Homo sapiens: one gene and its partner. The protein of the gene in region 2 interacts with the protein of the main gene of each other region in a pairwise test. Each region holds a gene or a part of one and is shown on either strand. Other genes may lie near its edges.

The links. Proteins that work in one complex are often made in the same cells at the same time.
Region 1: the proteins of SH2D1B (region 2) and GAB1 interact in binary tests that used the Homo sapiens proteins (3 or more experiments, as listed by UniProt).

The regions. Positions count from the first base shown.
Region 1 is NC_000004.12:143,409,721-143,413,475, reverse strand, and holds part of GAB1 (GRB2-associated-binding protein 1), read right to left. Parts: intron 1-3,755. UniProt on the Homo sapiens protein: Adapter protein that plays a role in intracellular signaling cascades triggered by activated receptor-type kinases. Plays a role in FGFR1 signaling. Probably involved in signaling by the epidermal growth factor receptor (EGFR) and the insulin receptor (INSR).
Region 2 is NC_000001.11:162,405,450-162,409,204, forward strand, and holds part of SH2D1B (SH2 domain-containing protein 1B), read right to left. Parts: intron 1-3,755. UniProt on the Homo sapiens protein: Cytoplasmic adapter regulating receptors of the signaling lymphocytic activation molecule (SLAM) family such as CD84, SLAMF1, LY9 and CD244. In SLAM signaling seems to cooperate with SH2D1A/SAP.

The DNA.
Region 1 (3,755 bases), on a different chromosome or scaffold from region 2:
CACGCAGCTCAAAGGAATAAGTATATAATTTGTGTCCAGGGAAGGCAGGGTAGAGTCCTATAGATGTTTTAGATAATATTGAAAAGTCATAAAGTGTTGGATTCACATGATTTTAGCACTGTTTTCTGGACTATAAAAATCCATTCATTGAATATGCATCTACTTACTGCAAAATAAATAAATATCATCTCTTAGTAAAATTATCCCTCTATGGATACTTCCCTCTCAAGCAGTAAGCTTTAAAAAGTAATGCAGAAGTAAAGCAAAAGAATATAAAATATGATGTTATTTATGCAGGGCCCTCAAGAAATCATATCATTCAGTAAGTGATTTCTCCAGATAGTGAAGCTTCATCTTTAAATACAGAAATGACTTTTTAAAACTTTATTGTCTTGCACGCAAATCTTTCTAAAATGCTTTACTACATACTTCACCAAACATAATCCATTCCCCAATGATTCAGACTAAGTATTGTAAGCATCCATTTCTATACTGCACTTCAGGAGACTCTCAGAGGCTGTTGCACTGTATAGAGTGTCATTTGCCCCTATACTATTAATAAATAGTACCATATTGCTATGCTTGTATAGTTCATCTTTTAAATACAGTTTCCTGTCTTTTTTCTCTCAATTTCCATCAACTGTCACTTTTCCCCCTCCAATAATAGGGTTTATAGGAGGCTAAACTCTTACCTGCCTCAGGGACTTTGCACATGTTTTCCCCTAAATACATTATATTCTTTCCCTCACTTTTTGCCTGGCCAACTCCAACCTTCAGGGCTTCTCTTCCCTGACCACCCTCAATGCAACCAACTCCAGTGTAAACTAATAGCATAGTTTTAGAGATCCTATTACTTACCTACGTAGTGATTTGTGTAATTTTGCAATTCAATTTTTCTTTGTATTTATTTGTGTAGTACGTAACTCCCCAAACAGACTGAAAAGTTCAAGAAGATAGTGACCACGCCTGCTTTATTTGCCATAGCACAGTGCCTAGTACATAGCATATCTGTACAATAAATAAACAGAATTCTCCTGAGAGAGTAGACTTGTAAAATTTTTGAGATTAGATTTGATACATGGGCCACAATGAAGAGAGTGCTTTCAAAGCATCTTCCACTTGAGAAAAAGAGCTCCAATACTGAACATATACATAATAAAATAAACATAACTAAGACAACTTTACCAAAACACATGCACAAAACATCTTGGGAAAATGGCAAAAACAGAAAAGCACAGAACATGTCCTTTTGCTACAGCTTATGTGTCACTCTTTGTTTTCCGGCTAACTGTGGCTCCCCCCCATCCATTCCTTGGCTTCCCTGTTGAAATCACATTGTTACAATTCAAAAAGCCCTTAGGAACTAAAATAAATAATCAAGAAATGAGTAGCAATGAATTGAGGTGCATTAGATATATTGGGCTAGTGATTACAGAGGCTGAGTAGACATTATACAAGACGTGAACCCTTACGGCAGGAAATTACAGCATTAAAACACAGAATTTAGCCAAGCAGCACCTGCCATTTATTTATTTATTTTTAACATGGTCCAAATGTGAATGTTTGTCTCAGTCACAAAATGAGTCACCCTCATTGAATCTGGCACAGATTAAGCTGGAAAACAAAAGCAATTACATAAACTACACACTTTAATAAGGCAGATACAAAGGTTCTCTGGATTATGGTACAAAGCACAATTTAGCCACAGAATAAAGCTTGATGCTCGACAAGAGAACTGACATCAGCACCCTTGCTAATCACAGCACAAAAGCGTCTCTATGTTTTGTCAGAGCACAAAACGGGCCCACATAAATCAGTCTTTGTTATCTGAAAATATCTGAGATTCTTAAAGTTTGTCCTATTTTTATCCTTGCTGCCTTGGTAGCTCCAGAGAAAGCCGTACACTGCCTTGCCAATCCTGCAGAGCAGGAGCAGACAAAAAGGACAGGCTTTCTAGAAACCTTCAAAACCAAATACTCAAAGTAATTTTAAAAGAAATTCACACAAAAAATCATTTTAACGACTAGACTTCCATTACGAGCAGGTAATGAAGAAGCTGAAATTTGCAAGATGTCTGCATAGTTGAGAAGGACTATGTAAAAACTTATTTTGTAGCCATTTCTTATATGCAATAGTCACTCCAATTTTGAGTTGAACAAATAATTTGTTAACAAGAAGTCAACAGTTAAGTCTGGATTTTGGGGTAACTTAAAAGTACCAAATTCTGAAGCCAATTCCCTATGCTCAGTGACTGCCCCCTGTGCCTACAGGATAAAACCCAAACTCTGGCAGGGTACACAGGACCCTCCAATCAACTCCCGCCCCATCTCCACCCCTAAATCTCTCCAGCGTCACTTCTTGCCCCTCTGCCTTCCAACCACATTGGAAATACTTGTAGTTTCCCAAACACTCTGCTCTGTCCTGCCTCTCACCCCTTGGCACAAAATCTACCCCCTAGATTTAGCTCAGCCCTCTTCGGGGCACCATCCGAGTTGGCTCTGAGCTCTCCATTTCCACCTTTTTCCTAAATCATTTGACATCTGTGCATTTGAATGTACTGAGGGCTGGAGCCATTTTAACCTTTCTTCTTTCCTTTCCCATTGCCTAGCGCCAAGGAGGTGCTCAGTCAATGTCTGCTAAATACGCAATACAAAATGTTTGAGGCAAGGATTAAAAATACAGAAGTTCTCATACTATTTATGCATTGCAGGGATAGTGATATAACTGCGATCTGCCCAGCCCATTCAAGAATTGGTCAGGCAAGCATAGAGGTGTGTAAACAAATTAATTTGTTTTTAAAACTCTACAGACATAAGAGAGATGTTTTTAAACATCATTTTAAAAGAACTATTCTTTTAAACATTTCCTGTATTTAGCAAATTGGATATGCTCACCTGTAGAACTGTCACACTGAAGCTAGGTCTTAAGGCAGGCTTATCACACACCCTAGAGTATGGGTATGTACATACTGGCAAGAAAGTACAGATGGGAGTCCCACTATTTGGTGGGAAGGAAACATTTTTTAACCTGGATTAACCCCAAGCCATTAATGGCTGTAATATTACTAACAAATTCACAAATTTTGCCTATATGGCTGTAACGTTACTAACAAATTCACAAATTTTGCCTAATTAACCTAACTAGCAAATGGCTTCAGCTTTAAAGAAAAACATTGTAACTGCTGTACACCCTGTTTTGTGAGTTCTCTGTGGTATAAATGACAGCTCACATGCCTGGTGTGATGCTTGCCAAAATTCCCTCATCTTTTCCCTGTACCTTTACTGGAAGAGCTAATTATTGAGGAAGTGGCCAATATATGGGCAGGCAAGAGAGAAGATCAGAGAAGAGGTCGGGGGTAGTCCATGGGTTCTCTGCCCTGAATGCACATTAGAAATATCCGGAGAGCTTTGCTTAAAAAAAAAAAAAGCTTGGGGTTTCACCTTAAGCCAACTAAATTGTAGTGTATGGGGGTGGGGTGAAGATTGGAATAGGCAGGTTTAAACACTCAACAGATGATTCTAATGTGCCACCATGATTAAGAACCATAGATCCAATCAATAGGATTATATTGCTCTTTAAAGTAAAATTTCAAAAACAAAACAAAACAAAACAAACACAGGTCCTTTCAAGCTTACGTCTCATTCTTCATCTTCTTATATTAATATCTTCTGCTCATGCCAATGCTGTCTCTATCTTCCTATTTTTGTTCACAATATTTACCACTAGCAAATATCTTTCAAACCCAATTCATTCTT
Region 2 (3,755 bases):
TCATGGCATAAAAAGGTAGATGAATATAATTTATCTTTCTAATATATAAACTAAATTTTAATTCCTTATACATATGTGCTTTTGCTGTTTTCATGATTGGTTTTTGGCCTCAGATAGAAAAAGTGTTTCCTATTTTTGCAGTTATGTTCTCAATAAATATGTGGTGTCTTGACTCTCTGTGTGAGACTGATACCCAGTGGAGCCTACCTTTTTGTTTATTCTATGGAAATCGTTGTCGTCATTTATGAGAAATACACTGGACTTATAAAAAACATTTAAAAATCTTAGGCATTAATTTCTCAGTTGAGGTTCAAAAAGGCTGGAATACAGGACCTCTAAGTTTTCCCATATCTTTGAATTGTTTTACTCTATCTATTTAGCTTTCAAAGTGATCGTTCCATGAGGTGCTGTGCACGGATCTCTGAGTCCTTGCTCAACGCATGAACAGCCCACAGATTAGCACGGTCTCATGTTGTGGCCATTGTTGTGGGGAAACTTGTTTGTGTTCAAGTTTTTATTTTAACTAACCTTCAAAAGGTCAGCTGAAGGAAATGGAATCGACTGCACCCTATAATATCAACAATGTGTTCTGCATTTTTCCATGCCATGATGCAAGTGGGAAATCCAAGTCAACAAAGAAATATTTTAAGACTTTTGACCTCTGGCCTTATCACTGTTCCTGATCTCAGTGTATCTTGGTGCAACCTTTTGTGGTACTAATTTTTCAGTGTGCATGAAGATTTTTTTAAACATCTAGGATTTTATCCTAACTAGGGAGTAAGGCAAACTTTCACAGATGTAAGTACAAAAATGTTAATCATTCCAAATTACACTGAGTCCACTGGACTAAATTGCAAATGAAAATTGAAAATAACCTAATGTATGATATGTATACATTATGATATATCAAATCAATAAAATACTAAGCAGTCATAAGGGGATGACCTGCTTTCTTTGATGGGGAAAGAGACCTACAATTATGGAGAAAACAGGTTGCAAGCCATCATGTATAATGAACCATTTATGTACATATATTGGTTTATAGATGCGCAGAGAAGTCTGGAGAGATGTATGCCAAAATATTAAAAATGGTGATTTCAGAGTGGTGAGACTGATATAGTTTGTTTTGTTTTTTATACCTTTCTCTATATTTGATTTTCTAAAATGAATTTTCATTAGCTTGATAAACCACCACAACAAAATGGATCATTTCTTTTCTTTCTGTACTCTACAATCCTTGCAAAAGTCTCAGAATCTGAGACTCATAAATGACTCTCAAGGCAATAGATAGACATTGCCATTATTATTCTTAATGAGAGCATGCAGTAGGTTAGGGCTCAGGTCTTCCTCACCTGCAGCCTTCCTATGGCTTTGCAAAGTCCTCCTTTTCTTCACACTTGCAGATGAATCCTTTGCACCTCCTAATATCTACTCCATTTAATTTTACTGATGATAAAGGCAGACAGTTTAGACACTCACAAAGTCACACTACACAGACAACCTTTTACACACTGGAGTTTTCTAGACACTCTATTACATTGTAAGATCAGAAAACATTTCCTGTCCACAGTTACCACATAGCTTTCTGGTTAGTGCCATATGCTGCTAGGTCAGCTCTCTCTGTGACCTCCTTCTTTTATTTCTAACCTTCCTCACAGTATTTTCATCACTAAATATTTAGCTCTGTGAAAGTCCTGAAGTATCGGGGGAACCAGCCCCCAATATTTCAACGTAGGTTCTTTTCTATTCTCCCTAAGTGTCGGCCAGTCTAAGAAATAAAGGGAAAGAGTACAAAACAGAGAAATTTTAAAGCTGGGTGTCCAGGGGAGACCCATTTTAATGCAGCAGAGAAGAAGGGGACACTGCATATCAGAGTCCACTCCCAAGCCCTCAGGTCCCCTGCTTGGGCATTTTATAACACAGATCCAAGGTGATTACCTGAAACATATTTCAGTGAAGCTGGGGACATTGGTAAGAGAGGGAATGTAATAACATATTAGCAATTTGGCCCTAGGCAAGCTATTAAATAAGAAGCTACAGTTTATTTTCTCACAAAATAGTGATCATGTCGCCTACCGCAAAGGGATTGCAAATGACAAATAAGATAATGCATGTACCATGCTTAGCAAAATGTTTGGCTCATAGATAATACCTACATGGTAACTTTTTCTGTGTCAGTGAAGACAAGCAGGCTAACACTTGTATCATAATAGTAATTCTTGCTTTGCTTGCAAAGGGTTGTATCTTGAAGCATGAATTGGTTGATGTGACCTCTTCAGAGAAACCTTTCCTGTACCCAATGGAAAGCAGCAGCTGTGTCTCTCCCTGTCATATGACTCTGTTTCATTTTCATCATATTTTCTCCTCTTACTGAAATTAACTTCATGAGGGCAGAAACATTGCCAGTAGTATTTATCACTGTATTACCAATGCTTAGGACCACGCATGGAACATAATAAGTGCTCAGTATATGCTTGTTGAATGAATGAAGGTTCCACTTATTCTCCTAAAGTCTCAGCTCCAATATCTGGTTCTCCCCTTTTTGCTGTCAGCTCTACAGTGCCCTAATGATAGTCCAATCATCATAATTATCACATGCATCACTGTGTCTGTTTACTTCTTTATTTTCCCCACTAGGCTCTGAGTTGTGTTGAAGGCATCAACCGAGTGTCTAGCACACTGTCTGACATATGAGAGAATTCAAATATTTGTTGAACAACTAGAATTTAATAGTCCATACTTATCTGTATGATAATACATTTTTACAAGGCCCTATGAGGAGATAGCTTCAGGGGTCACTTGACCTAAGCCTTAAGCCTGAGGGTGAATGAAATGTTGTTTGCCTTTCAGTGACATGTGTAGGGAGGTGGGTGAGACCTGATCATGTGCAGGGGCTTAACAAATATTTATTTTTGCCTCTCCACTTGGTTTATTTTCATTTTTTAGCTTCTCTTTTTTTCTCTTCTTTTTTTTTTTTTTTTTGAGATCAAGTCTCGCTCTGTAACCCGGCTGGAGTGCAGTGGTGCGATCTTGGCTCACTGCAACCTCCGCCTCCTGGGTTCAAGCAATTCTCCTGCCTCAGCCTCCTGAGTAGCTGGGACTACAGGCGCATGCCACCACACCCAGCTAATTAGTTTTGTATTTTTAGTAGAGACAGAGTTTCACCATGTTGGCCAGGATGGTCTCAATCTCTTGACCTAGTGATCTGCCCGCCTCGGCCTCCCAGAGTGCTGGGAATACAGGTGTGAGCCACCACGCCTGGCCCATTTTTTAGCATCTCTTAGTGACCTTTGCTTTAGATGAATATGCAAGATGGGCTGATGCACCACAGAACAGTTGAGAATAAATATCAATTTTCAAAGAGAATCCCAATATAGGCTGGGTGCAGTGGCTCATGCCTGTAATCCCAGCACTTTGGGAGGCTGAGGTGGGTGGATCACTGGAGCCCAGGAGCTCGAAATCAGCCTGGGCAACATAGCGAGACCCCATGTCTACAAAAAATTTAAACATTAACCAGGCATGGTAGTGCGCACCTGTAGTCCCAGATACTCAGGGGGCCTGAGACAGGAGAATCTCTTGAACCCAGAAGGTTGAGGTTGCAGTGAGCCATGATCGCACCACTGCACTCCAGCCTAGGAGCTGGAGTGAGACCCTGTCTAAAAAAAAAAAAAAGAAAGAAAGGAAGGAAGAGAATCCCATATTGACCATATACCCTGAGATCCTGGCCAAGGTCTGTCCTTGCACCTTCTTGTTTT